2 linked regions of the Homo sapiens genome follow. Changing the gene in region 2 together with the main gene of any one other region gives a genetic interaction. Each region holds a gene or a part of one and is shown on either strand. Other genes may lie near its edges. The genes, in order: NTRK1 and SLC5A5.

The links.
Region 1: changes in SLC5A5 (region 2) and NTRK1 together harm fitness less than expected from each alone (positive genetic interaction), as found in Homo sapiens cells (one large-scale study listed by BioGRID).

Annotation. Positions count from the first base shown.
Region 1 is NC_000001.11:156,870,865-156,874,364, reverse strand, and holds part of NTRK1 (high affinity nerve growth factor receptor isoform 2 precursor), read right to left. Parts: intron 2,743-3,500; coding exon 2,610-2,742; intron 733-2,609; coding exon 406-732; intron 1-405. UniProt on the Homo sapiens protein: Receptor tyrosine kinase involved in the development and the maturation of the central and peripheral nervous systems through regulation of proliferation, differentiation and survival of sympathetic and nervous neurons.
Region 2 is NC_000019.10:17,878,206-17,882,224, reverse strand, and holds part of SLC5A5 (sodium/iodide cotransporter), read right to left. Parts: intron 1,394-4,019; coding exon of another isoform or gene 1,361-1,393; coding exon 1,272-1,360; intron 266-1,271; coding exon 153-265; intron 77-152; coding exon 6-76; intron 1-5. UniProt on the Homo sapiens protein: Sodium:iodide symporter that mediates the transport of iodide into the thyroid gland. Can also mediate the transport of chlorate, thiocynate, nitrate and selenocynate.

The sequences.
Region 1 (3,500 bases), on a different chromosome or scaffold from region 2:
GAGAAAGCAGTCAGAGGGAGGAGAGAAAGCAGTCAGAGGGAGGAGGAAAGCAGTGAGTCCCCTGCCTACTCTGGGACTCATTCCTTCATGGGACGAGGGGGGATGGAGGTGGGCTGCTGGGCCTCAAGGAAGAAGATGCATGTGACCCTTTTCCAGCTGGGCCAGGATGCCCTGCTGCATGGCTGTCTCCTCAGCCAGCCGACAAGGACGGAATAGCTCAGGAGTTCAGGAGTCCTGGCTTGGGGAGAGGGTAAGGAGGCCAGAACAGCGGGACACCAGGACTCCAGACTCCTTTCTGTCCCGAACCAGGCACTCCAATTTCTGGGGTCAGGGCTATAGCAGGAAGTTGGCTGTAACCCAGGAGGAGCCCAGGAGTGGGGGCAGGGTTCAGGATGGCCCTCGCACCAGGGATGGGGTCCTCGGGGTTGAACTCGAAAGGGTTGTCCATGAAGGCAGCCATGATGGAGGCGGAGGCCTGGCCGAAGGGGTTGGCAGCCAGCAGCGTGTAGTTGCCGTTGTTGACGTGGGTGGGCTGGTTGAGGCGCAGACACCCGTGCCGCACGGTCTCATTGGCTGCCGGCTCCAGGAACTCAGTGAAGATGAAGCTGGTCTCATTGAGCACGGAGCCATTGAAGAGCCAGCGCAGAGACGGTGCCGGCTGCCCATCCACAGAGAAGGGGATGCACCAGTGGTGCATCTCCACCGCCGTGTGCAGCTGCACACTGGCCGGGACTGTGGGCCAGAAAGAGCAACAGCAGGAGGTCAGGGCGCAGCTGGAGGGAGCCTGGCACACACCCGACAAGTCCACGGGCAAAGCGAGTAGAACCCGAAATCAAAGGGCAGGCCTGGGAGAAACAGGTCAGCAGGCCCTGGGAAATTCACCAAGGAGAGATGTTTTGAAGAAAGTTGACAATACATTTTAAATAAATCAGGCAGCAGGCATATAAAATTTAGAGGCTTAAAGAACATAAGTGGTGGGCCATAAATAAGTCACAGCCCCACAGGAGTGGGGTATCAGCTTATGACAATTAAACATGGAGTCTTTGGGATAAGGAATCTAGAAGAAGTCAGTGTAACCAAGCTGAAGAAGATGGGTCAGGGGCCCTAACAATCAAACCAGCCAAAAATATATACAGTTAAATTTTTGGGGAAAAGCCAGGCACAGTGACTTGCTCCTGTAATCCCAGCTACTCAGGGGGCTGAGGTGGGAGGATCGCTTGAGGCCAGGAGTTCAAGGCTGCAGTGAGTTATGATCCCAAAGCATTCCAGCCTGGGCAACAGGCTGAGACCCCATCTCTTCAAACACACACACACACACACACACACACACACACACACACACACACTCTTTTTGAAAAAAGATATGCGTTTGAAATAGACCCAATCTGGGCCAGGCGCGGTGGCTCACGCCTGTAATTCCAATACTTTGGGAGGCCGAGGCGGGCGGATCACGAGGTCAGGAGATCGAGACCATCCTGGCTAACACGGTGAAACCCCGTCTCCACTAAAAAAATACAAAAAATTAGCTGGGCGTGGTGGAGGGCGCCTGTAGTCCCAGATACTCAGGAGGCTGAAGCAGGAGAATGACGTGAACCTGGGAGGCGGAGCTTGAAGTGAGCCGAGAGCGCGCCACTGCACTCCAGCCTGGGTGACAGAGCGAGACTCCATCTCAAAAAAAAAAAAAAGAAATAGACCCAATCTGGTAAAAGTAAAAGCCCCTCAATGATAGAAAAAAAGTGTATGTATGCATAAATATATGTATATATATATATAATATAGCATTCATACATAGGAATACTATTTAGCAATGAATTGCATGAGCTACATATAGCAACTCCCATTAACATGAATGAATCTTATAAATATAATGTTGAATGAAAGAAACCAGATACAAAATAATACACGCAGTATGATTCCATTTATATAATGTACAAGAACAGGCAAAACTAAATGATACCGATAGGAAAGCATATTTGAGAAAAATTATTTTTAAAAGCAAGGAAATGGTTATCCTGACAAAAGTCAACATGAGATGGGAGAGTGGGATGGGATTGCGAACAGGGAGAGGTGTTGGGTGGTGGGGGATCTTCCGTGATGCTGGTAAGAGTAATTATTGTTTAAAATATATATATTTTTTGCACATTTCTATGTATATTTCACAATAAAAGAAGAAAACTGATGTAAAGTAGAATATTTAAGATAATTTGTTGGCTGATCTAGAGAAATTAGGCAGCGAGCGTAAAGAGGAACTCAGGAGGAGAATTTCCTCTTTTGAAACTAGGATGCGGGGAGAAGGACCCGATGAGGGACGGGCATGAAAAAATACTTCGGAGCAGTGGGAACAGCCGGGCATCTGGCGTTGAGGGCCTCAGGTAGCAAGGCTCGGGCAGGGGGCCAGAAAGAAATCCATCTCCATCCCTCTGGCCTTGACAAGACCCCAGGACTTCCCCCAAAGGATCAGGTTTTCATGGGAATCTGGAAACAGCTGGGAGGGAGCAGCTGTGGAGACACACATCCCACCCTTTCTTCCAGCCCCCCACCCTACATCCTCTTTTGAGGGAAGAAGAGATGAGTAGGGGGTGGGTGCCGGAGCTGCCACTGAGACTCACAGGAGACGTTGACCTGAACAGAGACCTCTGCCCGGCCCACATCGTTCTCTGCCCAGCACGTCACGTTCTTCCTGTTGAGGTCACTGGTGACATTGGCCAGGGTCAGCCCCAGGGATGGCAGACCCCCAGATTTCTAGATCAGGAAAGAGAGGGGGGAATAAGAAGGAGCTTTAGCCAGCTTGGGGCTGGGGCTGAAGTCTTTGGAGAGCCCCTCTGGCTCCAGATGGAAAGGAGAGGAGGGCTGGGAGGGAAGAGAAGGGAGAGAGGGGTGGGAGAGAATGTAGCAGATAATGGCCTTCCTCCTTTAGGTTTGTTCGTTGACTATCTCCTGGATCACATTTTTTTTTTATTTTATGTTTTATTTTTGTAGCGACGGGGTCTTACTGTCCTGCCCAGGCTGGTCTTGAACAGGGCCTCAAGCAATCCTCTCACCTCGGCCTCCCAAAGTATTGGGATTACAGGCGTGAGCCACTGCGCCCAGCCTGGATCACGTATTTAATTATCTGAAAAATCTAAAATCTAACCAGTAGCCTCAAAATAGGCACAAAATATCCCAAACTGAAACTAAAACCAGCCATCTGAGCAGCTAAACAGATGTCACGCATCCCAAGTACCAAATTTGTACACAGCTCGTTGGAGACCCCACTAGGACCTCACTGCCTATTCATTCCTGTTTTACACACAGTTCTAACAAACTGAGTCTCAGCCCAAGGAAGATCAGAAACAAAGAGATGGTGCAAATAGCACAGCAGCAGTTAGAAACAACAGCAGCGGCATCGCCTCCTGCAGCAGATGAGGACCATGGGTGAGGTTAGACAGGCAAAGTGACTTGATTCTGAATCATCGTCAGGATTGAATCAGATCAAGTTTCTCTTCCTAGGAAACCGTGGA
Region 2 (4,019 bases):
CTCACCTGAAGGACACCTCCTCCGAGCAGTGAGGACAGGGCTGCCACGGTGAGACAGGCCGATCCGTAGATGAGTGCTGTAGTGGATGAGGATGGCACGGTCAACGGGGAGGGACTGCCCTGGCCTCCCACCCAGGTCTCCCTGAAACTCACAGAGCCCCTTGGAGATAATCACGAGTTTCCTGGGTGCCAGGCTCCGCAGCCGAGGTTTGATGAGGTCTTCTACAGTGACTGCAGCCATAGCATTGATGCTGGTGGATGCTGTGCTGTGTGAGGAAGGCAGCGGGGGGTCCTCAGGCCATATGGAGAGACCGTCCACACCATCTGGCCTGCCAGACCTCACCCAGCCTGAGGGCAACGGTGGGGGTAACCCAGTCCTGCAAAGGTGAAGGAGATATTTGCCCCTCCCCTCCCCGAAGACCTGAGACATCCCTACAGGAGCAAGGACACCTGTGACCAAGGGCAGGTGGGACAGACAGGTGGGTTCTGGTTCCAGAGGGACTGCAGTCACATGTGGGAGATTTGCAAAAGGGACAGTGAGGGCATGTGACCAGAAGTCCCGGAAGAGTGGAAACCACCTGAGTGTGTGGCCTTGGAAGGCAGAAGCAGGGGACTGCTTGGTCATGGCTGTGCCCCAGGGTTTAGAACAACAGTACCTGGGCTGAGCACGTTGGCTCATGCCTGCAATCTCAGCACTTTGCGAGGCCAAAGCATGCAGATCACCTGAGGTCAGGAGTTCAAGACCAGCCTGGCCAACATGGCGAAACCCCGTCTCTACTAAAAATACAAAAATTAGCCGGCTGTGGTGGCGTGGACCTGTAATCCCAGCTACTTGGGAGGCTGAGGCAGGAGAATTGCTTGAACCCAGGAGGTGGAGGTTGCAGTGAGCCGAGATGGCACCACTGCACTCCAGCCTGGGTGACAGAGCAAGACTCCATCCGGAAAAAAAACAAAAAAAAACAGTACCTGCCACATAGTAGATGTTCAACAAATATTTGTCTGGGGAGGAAGGAAGGAAAGAAGGAAGAAGAAGAGAGGAGAGTCAGGCGTGGCCCTGACAGGTGATAAGAAGGTAAACCCTTGCAGTTGGGGTCCCTGTGCCCAGGGCATGCTCTCTGCCAGCGCCTACCTGAGCTGTCTTCTAGGGATCAAGCAGGAACTGGGACTGATGGACAGGTCCAGAACATTCCATGCCCCAGAGGGATGGCAGGCCAGGATAAGGAGGCTCCCAGGGGCTGAAATAATGCTCCATGAACAAGCAGGGGTGCTCACCTGAGGGTGCCACTGTAAGCACAGGCCAGGAAAAGCCCGGGGACTCCAGGCAGATCTTCGAAGATGTCCAGCACCAGCAGAGGCATGTACTGGGGAGAACTGGGGGTCAGCCTCCCAGACAGCTGCACCCCGAGGACCGGGGCATCTATCTGTCCTGATGCTGCACGTCCCCAGCACCCAAGACGGACAGGGCTCAGAGTCGGCATTTAATATGCATTTAGTTTTTGTCTGTGGTTTTGTTTTGTTTTGTTTTGTTTTGAGAAAAGATCTTGCTCTGTTGCCCAGGCGGGAGTGCAGTCCCATGAATGTGGCTCACTGCAGCCTAGAACTCCTGGGCTCAAGCGATCTTCCTGCTTCAGTCCCCCAGTAGCTGAGACCACAGGTGTGCGCCACCATGCCTGGCTAATTTTTTTAAATTTTTGTGTAAAGATAGGGGTCTGGCCGGGCAGGGTGACTCACGCGTGTAATCCCAACACTTCGGGAGGCCGAGGCGGGTGGATCACTTGAGCTCAGAAGTTCAAGACCAGCCTGGCCAACATGGTGAAACCTCATCTCTACCCAAAATACATAAATTAGCTGGGTGTGGTGGTTGGCACCTGGAGTCCCAGCTACTTGGGAGGCTGAGGCAGAGGAATTGCCTGAATCTGAGAGGTAGAGGTTGCAGCGAGCGGAGATCGCGCCGTTGCACTCCAGCCTGCACAACAGAGCCAAACTCTGTCTCAAAAAAAAAAAAAAAGAAAGAAAAGAAAGAAAGGCCGGGCACAGTGGCTCATGCCTGTAATCCCAGCACATTCAGAGGCTGAGGCAGGTGGATCACCTGAGGTCAGGAGTTTGAGACCAGCCTGGCCAACATGGCAAAACCCCACCCCTACAAAAAATACAAAAAAATTAGCTGGGCATGGTGGCGCATGCCTGTCATCCCAGCTACTCGGGGGCTGAGGCAAGAGAATGGCTTGATCCTGGGAGCCAGAGGTTGCAGTGAGCTGAGGTTGCGCCACTGCACTCCAGCCTGGGCAACAGAGTGAGACTCTGGCTCAAAAAAAAAAAAATTGTGTAAAGATGGGGTCTCCCTATGTTCCTCAGGCTATAATGTGCATTTGTTGATCAACTGCATGAACCTGAGAATTGTCCCTGAGCCCCACTGTGTTCTGAGCCCTGGGATCCCTGTGAAGCAGGGACCCGTGTCATCCTCATTTTATTGATGAAGACTGTGAGGCAGAGAGTACAGTCCCTCCCTGAAGTTACACAGTCCAGCAGTCCCGGATCTGACCTCCAGGGAGGACTGCAGATGGGGTGGTCCCCCGTACCCTCTGCTAACTCTGAACCCCATGGTCAGAACTCTACTTGGGGTGTGACCTAGGCATGGGTCCTGGCACCGCCCCCCGACTTGCCCATTGACCTCAGGCAGTGACTTCCCCCCGAGCCTCAATTTCCTCATCTGTAAAGTTGGAGCCGTGACTGCCCTGCCTTTCTCAGAAGAAAGATTAGATGGAGAACTAACTGCTGGTGAAGGGAACAGCATGAGGCACAGAGTGGACGCTTGGGACATGGGAGACCAGAGCTGTCATTATTATTATCACCAACATGATTAGTTCCCGCTGGATTACAGTTTTTGTTTTTGTTTTTGTGGGTTTGTTTTGTTTTGTTTTTATTTTTGTTTGAGACGGAGTTTCTCTCTTGTTGCCCAGGCTGGAGTGCAATGGCGCCATCTCAGCTCACCGCAACCTCCGCCTCCCAGGTTTAAGCTATTCTCCTGCCTCAGCCTCCCGAGTAGCTGGGATTACAGGCATGCACCACCACACCCGGCTAATTTTGTATTTTTCAGTAGGGACGGGGTTTTTCCATGTTGGTCAGGATGGTCTTCAACTCATGACCTCAGGTGATACCCCTGCCTCAGCCTCCAAAAGTGCTGAGATTATAGGCGTAAGCCACCGCGCCCAGCCTTGTTTTGGTTTTTTTTTTTTGTTTTTTTTTTTTTTGAGATGGAGTCTCTCTCTGTCACCCAGGCTGGAGTGCAATGGCGCGATCTCTGCTCACTGCAACCTCCACCTCCCGGGTTCAAGCTATTCTCCTGCCTCAGCCTCCCGAGTAGCTGGGATTACAGGCATGCATCACCAGGCCTAGGTAATTTTTGTATTTTTAGTGGAGGGGGGTTTCACCATGTTGGCCAGGTTGGTTTCGAACTTCTAACCTCAAGTGATCTGCCTGTCTCGGCCTCCAAAAGTGCTGGGATTACAGGCGTGAGCCAACATGCCCGGCCTGGGTCATGGTTTCATCTCCTCCTGAGCATCTCCCAGGGGATCTTTGGAACTCTCTGGAACTCTAGATCTGAATGTGGCCCTTGTCTGCTCACACCTACTGAGGGCGGTCCATTGCCTCCCAGACTCACCTTTCCCATTCCTTGCAGATCCTCCTCTGAACTCTTTATTTTATTTTATTTTATTTTTTTGAGACAGAGTCTCACTCTGTCATCCAAGGTGGAGTGTAGTGGTGCGATCTCCCTTCATCGCAACCTCCGCCTCCCGGGTTCAAGAGATTCTCCTGCCTCAGCCTCCTGAGTAGCCGGGACTACAGGTGCGTGCCACCACGTCCAGCTAATTTTTATATTTTTAGTAGAGACAGGGTTTCACCATGTTAGCCAGACTGGTCTCAAACTCCTGACCTCAGGTGATCCACCCGCCTCAGCCTCCCAAAGTGCTGGGATACAGGCATGAGCCGCCGCACCTGGCCTCCTCTCAGCTCTTTCCT